2 separate regions of the Homo sapiens genome follow, and region 1 is linked to region 2. The links come from fine-mapping of genetic effects on gene expression. A gene starts in region 2. The other region holds a variant in brackets. All regions are shown on one strand. Distances are between the middles of the regions.

Evidence for each region. PIP is the estimated chance that this variant, and not a neighbour inherited with it, causes the effect.
Region 1: its variant is fine-mapped to the expression of SIRPG in whole blood (TOPMed, PIP above 0.99).

The regions. Positions count from the first base shown.
Region 1 is chr20:1,632,835-1,638,219 of GRCh38, forward strand. SIRPG (signal regulatory protein gamma) reads right to left here. Exons shown (of 6, transcript NM_018556.4): 3 at 3,354-3,671; 4 at 2,433-2,765. It overlaps SIRPG-AS1 (SIRPG antisense RNA 1), which reads left to right and starts at 674. Exons shown (of 3, transcript NR_110090.1): 1 at 674-886; 2 at 4,372-4,516. RefSeq lists an enhancer at 2,256-3,081. The variant C/T (reference allele first, on the strand shown) is at 3,105.
Region 2 is chr20:1,654,862-1,660,246 of GRCh38, forward strand. It overlaps SIRPG (signal regulatory protein gamma), which reads right to left and starts at 2,918. Exons shown (of 6, transcript NM_018556.4): 1 at 2,781-2,918. The coding sequence starts at 2,853.

The DNA of each region.
Region 1 (5,385 bases), 22 kb before region 2:
GAAACTAGAAAAAGTAGAGCAAAATAAACTCAAAGCAAGCAGGAGACAGGAATTAATAAAAAGAAGAGTGCAAAAAATGAATAAACTGGAAACACAAAAACAATTTAAAAACTCACGGAAACAAAGTGGTCCTTTGAAAAGACCAATAAAATGGAAAAAAACTATAGCAAGGCTGATGAAGAAGAAAACAGAAATGGCATATTTTAGATATGAGGTTGAAACAGGGGATATCGCCATAACCCTTCAGACACCAAAAAGATAATAAGGAGATATTATGAACAACTCTACACACAAAAATATGACAACTTAGATAAAATGGACACAAAATTCTTCAAAAGGCACGAGTTACCGGAACTCACCCAATATGAAATGAATAATATGAGTAACCCTAAACTACTGAGGAAATTGAATTTATACTTTTAAAACACCCCCAAAAATTCTTGAGGCCCAAGTGTTTCAAAGAAAAATACTGCAAAGCATTTAAATATGAATTAAAACCAAATTTAGTGCACAGAAAGATAGTCATAAAAGAAATTTGAGGAAAATTTGAATGTATACTCCATTTTAGATGATATAAGGGAATTGTTTTAATAATTTTATGAAATTTAGTGATTAAAAATTTGAAATTGTATTAACTGTAATAATGATACTGGTTTTGTTATGCTGTCTTTAGTCATAAGATCACCCAACTATGGATTCCATTTGGAACTGCGTGTACATGCATGACTGAGTTAGCTGTGGACATGATCACACGCCTTCCATACATCTCTGATTATAGAAGATATTTTTTGCCCTCCATTTCCTATATTTACTCTTCCAGCAGACAGGGACATGGAAAAATCCGTGACCTAGCACTGACCCAGCAGATAAGACTAACCACCATAAGGTATGTGGGAGGAACCTGGGCCTTTGAAAAGTCTCCTGGAGTTGAGACTCCTCCTGGTATTACACAAGAGGGAAGTAAGACATATTTTGGTCATACGGAGTGGAACACAGGCCAACTTCAGGTCCATGGGACAATGCCCAGCAGAAGAGGACTGTTTCTCTAACTAGCACAAATTTGCATTTTAGGCTGATACTGACCTTGTCCTCAGGGACCCAGATTTACTTTAATTAGTTTGAACCAATAACCCGATCTAAAGGCAAGAGGTCTTCAACAACATCCCCCATGACTTCCCAAGTCCTAGTTTCCCCTTCTTTAAAACTCCAGACTTACTGGGTGGTTGAAGCAAAAACAGAGATCATGGATGAATGGAAATTTGCACTTAGTAAATTTGCAGAGGGGTTTGTGATTATTGTTGCTCAAATATCACAATCAGGACACAGAAGAGGTCCGTTCTGTGACCATTCATGGTCACCTGCAGGCCTGGTACAGTTTTTTTTTTTTTTTTTGACAGAGTCTCGCTCTGTCGCCCAGGCTGGAGTGCAGTGGCATGATCTCGGCTCACTGCAAGCTCCGCCTCCTGGGTTCACACCATTCTCCTGCCTCAGCCTCCCGAGTAGCTGGGACTACAGGCGCCCGCCACCACGCCCGGCTCATTTTTTTGTATTTTTAGTAGAGATGGGGTTTCACCGTGTTAACCAGGATGGTCTCGATCTCCTGACCTCGTGATCCGCCCGCCTCGGCCTCCCAAAGTGCTGGGATTACAGGCGTGAGCCGCCAGGCCTGGTACAGTTTTAAACTACATTTGTCTTTCTGAAACATACACAGCAGATGTCAGGGTGTACTGGGATGAGGTCATAAATGAGGATGGAAAAGTTTGGATGAAACAGAAACAAAGCAGAGGTTAGAAAAAGTAGGGAGCACAAGGGTGGGCTGATGAGAAACGGGCACAACAACTCTCAAGGAATAAGGGAAGGCAAAGGACTCTATGAGAAGATGGTTCCCCCTGCCTGCCTCTTTGCTCCTTAAATATATATTTATGTACGCCAGGCGCGGTGGCTCACGCCTGTAATCCCAGCACTTTGGGAGGCTGAGGCGGGCGGATCACGAGGTCAGGAGATCGAGACCATCCTGGCTAACACGGTGAAACCCCATCTCTACTAAAAATACAAAAAATTAGTCGGGCGTGGTGGCGGGCGCCTGTAGTCCCAGCTACTCGGGAGGCTGAGACAGGAGAATGGCGTGAACCCGGGAGGCGGAGCTTGCGGTGAGCAGAGATCGCGCCACTGCACTCCAGTCTGGGCGACAGAGCCAGACTCCGTCTCAAAAAAAAAAAAAATTAAACATATATTTATGTCAAAAGTTCTATTAACTTGTGCATCAAATTCTTACTAGTCATGACTCTTCGCATGTGGGATTTGGGGGGATGGAGCTGACATTAAAATTTTACTTTGTATTTATAGACTTCTAGCTTATTTTACAGCAAGTGTGGATATTACTTTTAAAATGAGAGAAAAAGACAAAATTTAAAAATTTTGAGTAACCTCACCAGGGGTAGCATCTGAGCTCTGGTCCTTCTGGTGGACTGTGACCTCTAGGGCAAGGCGTTTGCTGACCGCCAGCTGCCCATCATGCTTCACCTGGCAGGTGAGGACCACATCATCCCTTTGGTCAGATATGTTCACCAGGAACCAGCTTGTCCAGTTGTAGGTACCATCCTTGTTCTCTGTAAGGGTCGAGGCTGTTTCTCTCTGGCACACGTTTCCATTCTCCGACCAGGTCAGCTGTAGGCTCTGGGGGTAGAACTTCCTCACCTGGCAGGTGACGTTTACCTGGTTCCCCACCCTCATGGGCTGTTGAGTAACCTCCAAGGTGGGTGGAACTGAAACAGCACAGGGTAGAAGCTCTGATCTTCTGGCACAGACAGATCACAGGGAGGGCTCCATAACTTAACTCCCACTACCACGGTGAGGGCATCACCAGGACAGTGCTAGGCAGGCAGCAGATGCTAAGACATTGAGGGCGCTCTTTGCATATGAATGAAATTACCAAGCACAGTGCCTGGTGCACAGTAGGTGCTCAAGGACTGGTAGCTCCTACTAGGCTAAGAATGAGTGAAATCTACAAGCACAACCCCTGGCATGCAGTTGGAATGTAAGAACTGTAGCAAAATCAGTGAAATCGCCGAGCACATAGGGACTTGGCTCATAGTAGGTACTCA[C/T]TAATAGTAGTTGTTCTTGGTGAGATAAATGAAACTCTCTAGCGCAGAGCTTGGCACGTGATTGCTGGTCCCCTGACCGCTGCCAATAAAATGATAGTAAGTGACCAGCACACCTAGGTGCATGGCGGGCGGGCAGTATAGTCAGGGATTAGATTACAGGCCATTCAACCTCTGGAGCAACAGCCTGGGGAGAGGGGAGTGGGCTTGACAGCCAGGTGTGGGCTTGGGCTGGGTGTGAGGGTCCTCTACCTCGGATGGCCTCAGACAAGTTGGCAGTCCCACGAAGAGGGTCCCCCTGCAAGGTGACATGGGCCACCTCGCAGATGACCTGAGAGCGAACGTCCCAGGGGTCCAGTACCACCCTGGCTGTGCTGCGGATGCTGTAGGCCACACTCTGTCCTGTGGGGTCCACGTTGGTCTGGAAGTCTGAGAGCTCATTCCCATTTTTGAACCATTTCAGGGTGATGTCTCTGGGAGAGAAGCCATGGGACTCACAGGTGAAACTCACTGTATGCTCAGGTGTGGTCCTCGCCGCAGGGCCCAATACCACGGGGGCAGAGGGTTTGGCTACAAAAGGGGCATCGATAAACAGGAGACATGACTGAGATGACAATCACTAACGATGAGTGTGTGACACTGTTAAGAACCTTCAGATACATTAATTTTAATCCTTCTAATAATGTGGAGAGGATGGTGTTCTTATTCTCATTTTACAGAGCAGGATGCAAAGGTTGGAAGAGGTGACGACCAGCCCCAGGTCAGACAGTGTAGGGAAAGGTCCCAGAGGGAAGTCCAGGTCTGAGTTCAAAGTCCTCCTCTCCACATAGGGTGACTTCCACCAATCTGGGCACAGGAACAAAGTTACTGATTGTTCTCCCTCTGTGTATTAACTGGTGCTAGCCTGTTTCCCCAGGAGAGCTCACCAACCTCAGAGAGGGTGTTTACAGAAGCCAAAGTAGGGAACAATGGCAAAGTGGCGCCACCATGAGACCTGCAACCAGGCTGCTCAGCCCATGAGAGGGGTGGCCTGGAACATGCAGCCCCTCATCTGCAAAGTGGGACAGCAGCATTTTCCCTTCCCAGGGGTGCAACAAGGATTAAATGGGGCCATGGAAGAAGTTTTGCTTTGGATCAAAGTCAGAAGATGCTTCATAAAAATAAACACAGATCTGTCTTTAATCCAGACTTGACATATACCTAGAGCTCTCTCTCTTTGTGTATTTATGAATTTATTCCATATTTTTCATTCTTTTCACAAATATTCCAGTACAGTTTTTGAAAGAAAATGAAGTAGTTAAGGCTAAAGCTTTAACATGGAGTCAAGCGTTTGTAAGAGCATTGCACTCACACCTGCTAAAGGTCAAGCCACAGGATGTTGCTGTAGACCTGGATAACAATGGACTGAAGTCAAGGTACATGGGATTTTGATTTCTCTCATCCTGGAGTGTCCTAATTAAGTAACCAATTCATACGAGTTTGCAGTTTAGCATTTCTGCCAGGCAATGAACTGTTTTCAAAAACAACATTTTGTGAAAGTCCCCAGTACAAAACTTTTCCTGCATTGCCCTATGGGACACTGTTCAGGACTACCATGACTCAGGGTTCCCAAATTGCAACTCTTTATTTCCCAGATAAATGCTATTTCCTTTGGCCTTCCTATCAATCATTATTTTTTTTAGTTAGCAGGTCTAATCTGTGCCAAGTCCCAAATTTGAAAAGAGGGAAGGTTTCTTGGAATCTAGGTCTTCAGTTGGGCCAGGTTGGGTCCAAAAACAATGATCACTGAGTACTAAGAAAGCCAAAGGTGGGTGATTTCTTCATCGTTAATTCATTACAAGAGACAAAGATCTAGGCCACCCCAACAGGCAGAAATCTATCCTGGGTCCTGAAAGCACACAAACTGGAGAATCAGAAAAATGAGGGTAGTTTCTCCCTGTAGATGAGTCCTAAACGTGTCTCCAAATTGCTAATTATTACCCTGCACCTCCTATAGCAGTCATCAGGAAACACATATTAGGCATACTTGCATTTGTAAATATTAACTTGCTCCCTACCACATGCAAACATTTTATGGGCACAGTAAGAAGGGTGTCACTTGAAGAAGTCAAGTCATCAAGACACCAGCAGCATTGGGCATCCCTAGAGGGCTGAGAGGCTGTAACCAGTTGCCATTTATTGAGGGCTTCTTGGGAGCCTGATGCTGGCTGCTCCCTCTGTACCTCTCAGCTCTTTAATCCTCCCTTTATTGCCTTGAGGGGGTCCTCGTGTGAGTCCCTTATAG
Region 2 (5,385 bases):
TGGGCCAAAGATCCGAATAGACATTTCTCAGAAGAAGACATTAAGATGGCAAGTCAGCGTATAAAAAAAAATCCAACCTTACTATTCATGAGATAAATGCAAATTAAAACCGCAGTGGGCTATCATCTCACACCTTTAAGAATGGCTATTATCAAAAAGAGGAAATTTAGTATTGGAGAAGATGTGGAGAAAAGGGAACCCTTGCAGACAGTTGGTGGGAATATAAATTAGTAGAGCCATTAGTGAAAACAGTATGCAGGTTCCTCAAGAAATTAAAAATATAACTCTTATCTGATCTGGTAATCTCACTACTGGCATATATCCAAAGGAAATGACATCAGCATGTCACACATATATCTGCACTCCCATGTCCATTGCAGCATTATTTACAAAAGCCAAGATATGGAATCAACCTAGGTGTCTATCAGCAGATAAATGGAGAAAGAAAATGTAGCATATATGCACAATGAAATTCTAATCAGCCTTACAAAAAGGGAAACCCTGTCATTTGCAACAACATGGATGAACCTGGAGGACATTCTGCTAAGTGAAATAAGCCAGGCACGGAAAGACAAACACTGTATGATTTCACGTATGAAGAATCTAAAAAGTTGAGCTCATAGAAGTAGAAAGTAGAATGGTGTTTATCGGGGGCTAGAGAGGGGGTGTAGTTGGGGAGATATTAGTCAAAGGATACAAAATTTCAATTTAAATAAGAGAAATAAGTTCAAGATATCTATTGTACAATGTGGTGTTTATACTTAATAATATGAATTGTATTCTTGAAAACTGCTGAGAGAGCAGAGTTTACGAGTTCTCACAATAAAAAATGATAAATATGTAAGGTAATGCATATGTTTATTAGTTCAAATTAGTCATTCCACAATGTATGCATATTTCTTAATATGTTGTACATAAGTATACATACTTTTGTCAAATAAAAATAAAATAAAATATTTATTTTGTTAAAAATTTCACTGAAAATAGAAAGAGAACCAATGATTAAAAATGAAATCTCATCTGTGCATGTACATGTACATGCATAGGCACATGTGCATATATATGTGTATATAATGTGTATATATACACATTCACAAATATATATAAAAGTTTGGCTTATCATGTTAGTATATAAGGTTGTTTTGTGCATTAATTACAATTATGACAAATTTAAAAATCTCAGTAAAATATTTGGCACATAGAAACCATCCAACACATTTTTAACATTTTGGGAAAACATACATACACTAGTGTTTTACCTCTGATTGTTTCTGACTGGTGTGATGGGTGATTATTAATCTAATGTTTGCTTGCCTGCATTTTCTAATATTTCTACACATAGCATAACATGGTTAAAAGGGTGATAAACTCTGGAACTGGTCAACCTGGACTTGATCCCAACTGCTCCATGGACTGAAGTAGGGGACAATGAACAGGTTCCTGCCTCTGCCTCACTCCCCATTTGCAAATAGAGCACAAGAGTTATAGCTTCCACACAGGGATGCTGTGAGGATTAGTTGACTTAATACACACAAAATGCTAAGAAGTGCATCTGCCTTACAGGAAGAGAGCAATTGCTGAACTATTACTGCTGTCATTTGGGTACAGTGTATGTGTAAAAAAAATAATTTGAAAAGTGAGACCTTGCCCTCTAAGACCTGTGAGATGACATCACAGCAGGGCCCAGTGGGCAACTGAGAGGCTATTGTGCCCAGCCCTGTGACCGGGGGTCAGCTGCATGGTCTGAAAAAGGGGTGAAGACAGGCAGCCTGTCTGGGAGCTGTGAACAGGGCTCTCTCAGGTGGCACCAGGAAAGACCTCCCAATCCTGTCTGCCTGGGGGAAGGGAAAATAAATTCTCCAGAGGAAAGTCAAGATGACCAAGGGAGATGGTGGTGCCTGTTATGGGCTGAATGTGCCCCCAAAACGAATGGGTTGAAGCCCCAATCCCCAGCGCCTTAGAATTTGACCATATTTGGAGACAAGGTCTTTAACCCATTTATGCCCGAGGTTGCAATTTTTTTTTAATTTGAAAAATCAGACCTTGGCGATGCCCTTGAGCAGTAGGATATAAATAACTCCCGCAAGCTTAGTGATCCAATAACGGAGCACTAGGCATAAATGGGTGAAGCAATTTAGTTAAATGAGGTCACTGGCGGGGAGCCTTAATCCAATATGGCTGATGTTCTCATAAGAGAAAATGAGAATACAGACACACACAGAGGAAGACCATGTGTCAAGACACATGGAGGAGATGGCCTTCTACAAGCCAAGGAGAAAGACCTCAGTAGAAACTAACCCTGCTGGCATCTTGATTTTGCAATTCAGCCTCCAGAACTGAAAGAAAGAAAGTAAATGTCTATTGTTTTAGTTACTGAGTCTGTGGTGCTTTGTTGTGGAAGCCCTAAGAAAGGAATATAGGACGCTGTAAGCATGAAATGTGGAACTTCTTAAAGAGGAGGAGGGCACACAAAAATGGGTAGGAGGACTCAAGACAGGTAAGGATTTAATAATGATTCTTCTGTGTTTGTCAAATAAAATATTATAAAAATGTAACTAATTGTGATGGTGGCAGAAGCCTCACAAGGTTTGATGCCTCTGGTAGCCAGCTGCAGATCCACAGAGAAAGTGCTCAGCTCCCTGATCTTCTGCTCTTGGACAATGTCCAGTCCTTGACCTTCCTTGGCAGTGCTTGTGCTTATCTGAAATTGCTGCAAGTCCAGGGGCAAGGCTAGGTCCAGGAAGCAGGGAGAAAGGGTTCTAGCCCAATGCAATGCTCACCTGTAAGTCCCAGCAGTAGAGTCAGAAGCAGGAAAGGACCAGGAGGATGGGGCCAGGAGGCTGGGACAGGCATTTTGGAGACCTCAGAAGCCTGCTCTGTTCAAACGTCTGTTCTGGGGAGATGTCAGGCCCTGCTCTGAAGACAGAAGACAAGCCCTGCCTCCCTCAATTCAAGAGGAAGTGGCTATGATGGAATGCAACAGTAACCTGCTTCTAGATTGTGACTTACAAATCAGGCACAGTAGGCAGCTACAAAGCAAGGAGTTAATCGTGCTCCATTTTCAGGATAATCAGACAGGGTTAGCAGAAATAATGCTTCCTGCCTGCCTGGGACCTGTGCTCCCTCCTCGTGTCCCCAAACCCATTTTCAGGTCTTCTTGGTGATTTGCCATTTGAGGCTTTTAAGTCAAGAAAGATCTGTTGTTAGGTATTGTTTTCTAAAGTCTTTATTTCAAGACCCTAGGATGTGGTTGGCTTGTGGTCTTGTTCTGCACCAGCCTCAACCAAATGCCACTCCGCTGGACGTAGGAGAAGAGTTCACAGGACCTGCTCAACACTGGAGAGGAACCAGATCTTCTCCTGAAATGATTTTCTATTCCAAATTGCTATAATTGGCAACACTTAGCCCAAATTCAGTCTCTTGTGGACCTTAGCACTTTCATGTGCCTGCACCCAGCAGAAGGAATTATTTCTTGACTCCTTCCAGGAGAGAAACTGGGTTTGAGGTAATAAGCAACTGCTTTGTGGAGTGAGGTGGGGATTGTGGGTTATGGAAAGGGGATAGGGTTATCATGAGGGAAGATTATGGTGGGCAGGTTCCTGGGGCCGTCGCATCAATTTCAATACCCTTTCTTCTACACACAGAGCACCTATTTCATTCATCACTGAGTTCGGATGGGAAATGAGGAAAGAGGAAAAATCCATGCTCCTGCCAAGAGTGTGTGCCAAGGAGTTGGGGAAGTCGCTGGGCCCTCCTATGCTCAGTTTCAATCTCCTAAACTGGGAATAGTAAGTCTTTTTGTGCAGTGTTTTAGTGACGATTAAAGAGGTAATGAGCATATCATGCCTGAAACCCAGTAGGTCATTATTGATACTCACGGTGCCAGGTGAAGTGCGGGAACTCAAATGTTGCTTTTGAATGGATCCCTCCTGCATGCTGAGTTGCCCACCAGTGGCTTTCTCCCAGCAACCCAGGCCTCCTGAGACCCAGCTTATATAGTGTATTTGGACTCTCGCTGCCACCCTGAAATCAGTTTCTCCCTCTGGATTCTCTAAATCCCGCTCCTTGTTCAACCATAGATTAATTCCTCCTCTTACAATTTCCAGCTGTGTGATTTTCAAAAAGACACTACTTCTCTGAGCCTTGGTTTGATTGTATGTAAATAAATGTTAGAATATGCACCTTGTAGAGCTATGGTAGGAATAATATAAGCCATACTGAATGCTTGACTCATAATTAATTATAAGCAAAAAAACATGGCTATAATTATTTTCTGTGTACAGGAAGAGTCCACTGGTTCTCTGCCACCGTTGTGCCTTAGAAAAGCCACCTTGTTAAAAGAAATGATTTCTCTTCCAGCATCTATGACTAAGAAAGACCTGTCCAGAATCCTTCATCTCACATGTGGGTTTTAGGTTCTTAATCTGTCATGAATAATTGTCAAATCAAATTGTAAATGTTATCATGTTTTAATTGAAAGTCCTGTTTTAATGTGGCAGATGTACACAGGGTGAAATCTTCCCCTCCTTCTCCACACCCACAGTAGTGAAAACACAAAATGAAAAGAATATATGAATCAATGTCTAATTACACTTGAATACAAGCAATTGGCTTCTATATGACATGAAGGAATTATAACAGCTATCATTTATTGAGAGTTTCCTGTGCTCCAGATATGGTGCCAAGCATTTTTCTATTGGTAATGTCATTAAATCATTGCTCTGACCCCATGAGGTAAGCTCAACCATTAACCTCCTTTCACAGGTGAGAAAACCCGAGGCACATGGAGAGTAATGAATTTGCTCAAGATCACCCGGCTTTTAGAACTGGAACATAGGCTGCCACACTCCACAGCCTTCACTTTTAATGGTTGTACTATGATACCTCTTGCAGGAAGGGAGAGACATCCCTCAGGAAGAAAGCAGAGAAGAAGCTATAGCCTCAATTAGGAGCAGCCCTCATAGTGAGGCTGGGGCAGGTGCCATGCTCCACGAGGCCCTGACAACCCATGATCACATGGGGAATTATTCCTGGGAAGACGGAAGTGCAAGCAAGAATCACCAAAGATTTGAGGAACAGCACTGCAGCTAACAAATTCAAGAAAAACAATAACTCAAAAACAAATAGCAATCAAAAGAACTTCACACCTGAGCAAATATGAAAAAACAAAATGTGTAAAGTTCTTTAAAGTTAGTATACTTAATGATCTTATAAGGAAAACAAAAGAGAAGTAAATTCATAAACCAACATCAGGCATGTAATAATATGAAACAGAAATAGGCGGGCATGAGGTAACAACAACCATCTTGAAAAAATACCAAAACACAGACTTTGGAAATGAAAACATAATCAGTGCTGAAATTTTTTAAAAAAACTTAATAGGTT